Homo sapiens: one gene and its partner. The protein of the gene in region 2 interacts with the protein of the main gene of each other region in a pairwise test. Each region holds a gene or a part of one and is shown on either strand. Other genes may lie near its edges.

Region 1 (2,808 bases), on a different chromosome or scaffold from region 2:
CATTAAAACACTAACAAATATTTAAGATGCATTGAACATTTTGTTTTAGAATTGGCTTTTCAATCATTTCATCACAAGCAATGCTTTCCTGCCGTTTACTTACTCCTACATCTACTATCTTCTTTTGTATTGTGCTTTGTGTTTTACAGAACATTTGCTCTTTATAAAGCATCTATTTCTAGCCTAGGAAAATATCAAATGGAAAGGGGATGGGAATACCTTTGATATGTCCATTCAGCAGAACTATGTGCTGCCGGGTACAGTTGCGTGAACATATACACATCTCCACTTCCTGTGAGATAAAATTTTAAGAAGAAAATTTTCTTTAGGAATCAGTCCTCCCCCAGGCCTTATTTACAATGTCTGGCTTACTGTCAACCTGTGGGTCTGTCCACCAACCCTACAGGACCTCATATCCCTCCCTTCTCAAATGCCTACCTCTTCCCTTCCCTTCCCTTCCCCCGCCACCATCAGAAAACAGGCAGAGATATACACAGCCATCAGCTTCTCAAACTTTATTTTCATTGCCCAAGGTTGAGAGATGTAGCTTCTTGCTACTTTGCAGGTATTTCAACCATTATTTCCATGAATTCCTCCTCCTCCATTTGGAGGGGGTTGATTCTGTTCTCTCGGGCGTGGTCATTCAGCAGTTCCTCTGGAGATGTTCTTTTAAAGTTCCTCCTGTAGCGAACCACTAGTATGGTCGAGGACTCAGATGTTTTCATTTTTTTAGGAGCAGGTTGCGGGTCTGAGTCCCCAGTTGGGGTCTCCGGCATCTGTTAAGAAAGCAGGGAGAGGCCAGGAGGACATTATTTTGGGTGAACAGGATAGAGACTGGATAGCAAGGGGACTTCATGAGAAGAAGGAATGCGGGTTGAGGAAGGGGTTTGATCCAGAGAAGAAGAAGGTTGAAGCACAGAGTAGGGATCTATGGGGAAGAAGAAGAGGAGCGTGGGTAGGGTCACCTGTGAGTCCAAACTGCACCATTTTGTCAGTTCTTTGCTATTTTGCAGACCTTGGTCAAAGTGAAACATCCCATGGGGGTTCAGGCCGTGAGAAACATCCTGCCTAACCACCTGTCCGCAAGGCGGACAAAGGCCCAACTGAAGAAACATCCCTATCATATCTTGCTTGGCAGCGTTCTAAGGAACACCACAATGATATTCCACCAGAAAAAGGGCCAAACCACCTGATCATAAGAACATCTTATCAATATCCTGCCGGGCAGCAAGCCATACTGCCCAGGCCCCTCCCACCCCTACCTACAAGCACCCCAGCCTGTAAGCGGCGGTGGGCTCTGGCATTAAGCGGGCCCCCCACTTCCACAATGGTCTGCAATATTCCTGTGTTGTTGTTTGAGCCGCCCCCGCTCTGTGTGTCTTTCTTTCACCCTCGCCTTCACTTCAGAACCTAACAGTCTTACCATCTCGTTGGCCTCGTTGGAATCACAGGGGACGCTCCTCTTCACCCCGCCGGCACTGGATTGTTTGTCCATTGTATATATTGGTTCTTCAATGTCAGTGGCAGGCTTTTGTAGGTTTTGAATCTTCTCAGTGGCCCGGAGCTCTTGCCCTCCCTATGTATACCCTCCTGGTGACAAGGCAAAGCCACACCCTTGAGCTTTGTTTGATCATACAGGCAGTGTCCCAGCCAATGGCAGCCCTAGGGTGGCTTCACATCACAAAGCCCCACTGCTGACCACTCCCTGGGCTTGCGGGCGAGGGGTGACAGGGGTGTAGAGCAAACCAAATGCTGCTGTTGTTTCAGCATCCCCTGAAGATGCATCCCAAACCGATCTGCCGCCGCTCCTCATTTCTCCATGTTTAATGTTCACGGTTCACATGGAAGTCAGAGGATGATTCCTTCAAGCCCTTCCCCACAGCCATTCCTATTAAGTGATTCATTCTTTTGTCTTCCAGCCCTCACCATGACTTAGTATTTTCGATGTCTCACCTCAAATCCCCCACGCTAGTGTGGCTACATTTATTTATTGGCGGAGATGTGAATTATCCCATTTCCCTCCTACAGTTCCTTCACATGCACCTCGAAGACCATTTACTTTTGGGCTACTGCCAGGCAAATTTCAACCCATGTTCTTTTACCCAGTGTCCGTGTAGTTCAAGTTTCCTATTTCCAATCTGAAATAATGGCCTTCAGTCTGTCAAAACTTTAGTGAATAAACATTCTTTACCGTGTATCCTAGTCTTGTTTCAAATCAGGGGTGTATATTTTTTTCTCTTTTTGAAATGGAGTTTCACTCTTGTTGCCCAGGCTGGAGTGCAATGGCATGATCTCAGCTCACTGCAACCTCTGCCTCCTGGGTTTAAGTGATTCTCTGGCTCAGCCTCCTGAGTAGCTGGGATTACAGGCCTGTGCCACCACGCCCGGCTAATTTTTGTATTTTTAGGAGAGACGGGGTCTCACCATCTTGGCCAAGCTGGTCTTGAACTCCTGACCTCGTGATCCACCCGCCTTGGCCTCCAAAGTGCTGGGATTACAGGCGTGAGCCACCACACCCAGCCAGGACGGCCATTATTAAAACCACCATTGACAAGTAAATTTTGGTTACTTCTGTAGCATACAACAATTTAACATAAAGTTTATAATTAATAACATACAGAAGTTATTTCAGAATTATAAGAGTTTCCCATAATTTTGGAGCACATATCAATGACATTTCTATAAATACAGCCCAAAGAAAGTCAAACAGCATTTTATATTTGACGATGCTTCTTGTATGATTTTTATACCAAATAAGACCAATATGTCTCTTTTGGACTTCAGAGGACTCATATCAAAAAATTAATG
Region 2 (3,500 bases):
AGGGCAAATGAATGGATGAGAGGTGGGTTGATGGATGGATGGCAGGGTGGCTGACTGGATGGATCAGTAGAGAGATGGGTGGATGAATGGCTAGGGTGATGGATGGATAGATAGTCTGGTGGATGGATGGGTGATGAATGGATGAGTCGATAGTGTTCATCTAACAGACCAGTAGATAAGTGAGTGGATGGATGGATGGGTGGGTGTATGGGTCAAAGGGTAGATGGGTGGATGGGTAGATGTTAGTGCAGATGGTTTAATGAATAGATGATAAGGTATTGTATTTGAGTGGGTAGGTGGCAGGTGCTTGGGTGGTTGGGTGGGTGGAAGAGCAGATAGAAAGGTCGAAAGGTGGGGCCGGGCATGGTGGCTCATGCCTGTAATCCCAGCACTTAGGGAGGCCAAGGCGGGTGGATCACTTGAGGTCAGGAGTTCGAGACCAGCCTGGCCAACATGGTGAAACCCATCTCTACGAGAAACAAAAAATTCGCCAGGCATGGTGGTGGGCGCCTGTAATCCCAGCTACTTGGGAGGCTGAGGTAGGAGAGTCACTTGAACCCAAGAGGCAGAGGCTGAAGTGGGCCGAGATAGCACCAGTGCACTCCAGCCTGGGCAACAGAGAGACTCCGTCTCAAAAAAAAAAAAAAGGTGGAAAAGTGGGTGAGAATGGATGGACATAGGCTTGAGAGTTCAAGATGCTTTCAGGGGTCAGCATAGGGGTGGCTTCTCCCTGTTGACCCTGCCCCTGGCCACCCTGCAGGTGGGAACCGTATCACACAGGCGGTGCTGGGCGCCCACGACGGCGGCGTGTTTGGGCTCTGCGCCCTGCGGGACGGGACGCTGGTGTCTGGAGGGGGCCGTGATCGGCGGGTGGTCCTCTGGGGTTCTGACTACAGCAAGCTGCAGGAAGTGGAGGTGAGGAGGGGCAGTGGGCTCAGATGGGGGTAGAGAGGCCCCCCCCGATCTCACCAGGGCTCCCAACGCCAGACCCTCCTCCCCACAGTATGTCACCCCACACCCACCCGTGTGCATCCTACTCATCTTCCCTCTTATCTGTCCACCCAGGTCCCTGAGGACTTTGGCCCTGTGCGCACCGTGGCAGAGGGCCACGGAGACACACTGTACGTGGGGACCACCCGCAATTCCATCCTGCAGGGCTCCGTGCACACAGGCTTCTCACTGCTGGTCCAGGTGCGCCTCTCTCCTCTGCACCCCTCCCCTCTTCCCAGCTCTTTCCCTGGCCTTCCCTGCATCATCCACTCCCCCTCCCCACTCCCAGTTCTCCTCACCTCCCTGCTCTGTCCCTTCTCTGACCTGGCCCTGACCCAGGACCCCTTCCCAGGATCCAGCAACCAAGAGTTTAACTCCAAGCACAGCAGAGGGGCCCCAGGCCCCTGCTCCAACTGTGCTGCCTCCTGCCACTCTGATTGGGGGTGGCACCCTTCAGGTTGGTGAGTGTCCCTACAGGTTGTCCCACAGCTGCAGACACCCTGGCCACACACCTCTCAGACTCCAGCTCCACGGATTGGGGAAGGTCCTGCTGGAGTCTGCTTGCATTTCTTCTCGAAGCTCAAACGCCTGCTCCTCCCTTCCTGGCCTCCTCCCTCCCTTCCTTACCCCTGACCCAATTAAAGAACTCACCTACCGGGAAGCACTATATTTATACTTTTTTTTTTTTTTTTTCATTTTTGAGACAGAGTCTCGCTCTGTTGCCCAGGCTGCAGCGCAGTGGCTCAATCTCGGCTCATTGCAAACTCTGCCTCCCGCTTCAAGTGATTCTCCTGCCTCAGCCTCCCGAGTAGCTGGAATTATAGGCATGTACCACTACACCCAGCTAATTTTTGTATTTTTAGTAGAAATGGGTTTTCACCATTTTGGTCAGGCTGGTCTCAAACTCCTGACCTCAAGTGATCCACCCACCTCAGCCTCCCAAAATGCGGGGATTACAGGCATGAACCACTGCACCCAGCCCATACTATTATATTGGCTATTATAATTATTAATCATAATATTAATATTACTTTGGGAGGCCGAGGCAGGCAGATCACTTGACATCAGGAGTCAAGACCAGCCTGGGCAACATGGTGAAACACCATCTGTACTAAAAATACAAAACATTAGCTGGGCATGGTGGCGTGTGCCTGTAATCCCAGTTACTCAAAAGGCTGAGGCAGGAGAATTGCTTGAACCTGGGAGGCAGAGGTTGCAGTGAGCTGAGATCCTACCACTGCACTCCAGCCTGGATGACAGAGTGAGATTCCGTCTAAAAAAAAAATTTGTTATAAATATTAATAGTTAGACATTTCCATTTTGTGACCACATTCTCTGAATTATCCTCATGTTTAGCATTTTATTTATTTATTATATCACCCAGCCTGGAATGCAGTGATGCCATTTCAGCTCACTGCAACCTCCGTCTCCTGGGCTCAAGGGATCCTCCTGCCTCAGCCTCCCAAGTAGCTGGGGCTACAAGTGTGCACCACCACAACTGGCAAATTTTTGTATTTTTTGTAGAGATGGGGTTTTGCCATGTTGCCCAGGCTGGTCTCGGACTCCTGAGCTCAATCTTCCTGCCTCAGCCTCCCAAAGTGTCGGGATTACCGGCGTGAGCCACCGCACCTGGCCAGCATTTTCCATCCATGATTTGAGTGAGCACAGGAATGCTATGAGGCATACATACCAATTGGCCCCATTTTACAGGCGATCAAACTGAGGTCCCAAGGAGATGTCACCTGCCTAGATGACTGCGCTCGGTCAGTAATAGAAAGCCGAAGGTCAGAGCCATCAGGTTTAGTGCCCTCCATGAGGTCCCTCAGACTTCTGGGCTCTGTCTGGATGCAGGCAGACTCCAGAAGCGCCTTCCCAGATCCTTGGAGCTGGAGACCTGGGAGGTGTGTGGCCAGGGTGCAGCCTGTCTGACCCCTGAGATCAAGCTCTGAGCCACCATGCCCTCCTGCCTCCCATTGTGCAAAGAAGAAAGCAGAGGTCCCTGGAGAAGGGGCAGGATTTGCCTTGAGTCACACACCAGGGCATGGGTTCAGATGCCCAATTGAGGCCCCCTTCAGACATACTGGGAAAGGTCTTCCCTGGGTCCCGCTGGGGCAGGGTGAGTTGCTGGGGCTCATCTAGCATTTGTCTGGCATTAGTGTTGAGTGGGAAAAGGCCAGGGCTGCTGTCTCCATCCTGCTGTCCTCCCTTTCCACCAGGGCCATGTGGAAGAGCTGTGGGGCCTGGCCACACACCCCAGTCGGGCCCAGTTTGTGACCTGCGGGCAGGATAAGCTGGTGCATCTATGGAGCTCAGATTCCCACCAGCCCCTGTGGAGCAGGATCATCGAGGTAAGGGGCCCGGGGACTGGAAAAGCACCATTCTAACAGAACTACCTTTCCCCCTGTGTCAGGGCTCAGCACATTAGACTGAAACCAAACAAGGTCTTTTTTTTTTTTTCTTCGAGGTGGAGTCTCGCTCTGTCACCCAGGCTGGAGGGCAATGGCACGATC

The links. Proteins that work in one complex are often made in the same cells at the same time.
Region 1: the proteins of EML2 (region 2) and SPANXA2 interact in a two-hybrid assay, tested with the Homo sapiens proteins (one large-scale study listed by BioGRID).

The regions. Positions count from the first base shown.
Region 1 is NC_000023.11:141,588,455-141,591,262, reverse strand, and holds SPANXA2 (sperm protein associated with the nucleus on the X chromosome A), read right to left. Parts: upstream 1,556-2,808; 5' UTR 1,496-1,555; coding exon 1,424-1,495; intron 777-1,423; coding exon 555-776; 3' UTR 501-554; downstream 1-500.
Region 2 is NC_000019.10:45,618,898-45,622,397, reverse strand, and holds part of EML2 (echinoderm microtubule-associated protein-like 2), read left to right. Parts: intron 1-760; coding exon 761-915; intron 916-1,065; coding exon 1,066-1,191; intron 1,192-3,206; coding exon 3,207-3,338; intron 3,339-3,500. UniProt on the Homo sapiens protein: Tubulin binding protein that inhibits microtubule nucleation and growth, resulting in shorter microtubules.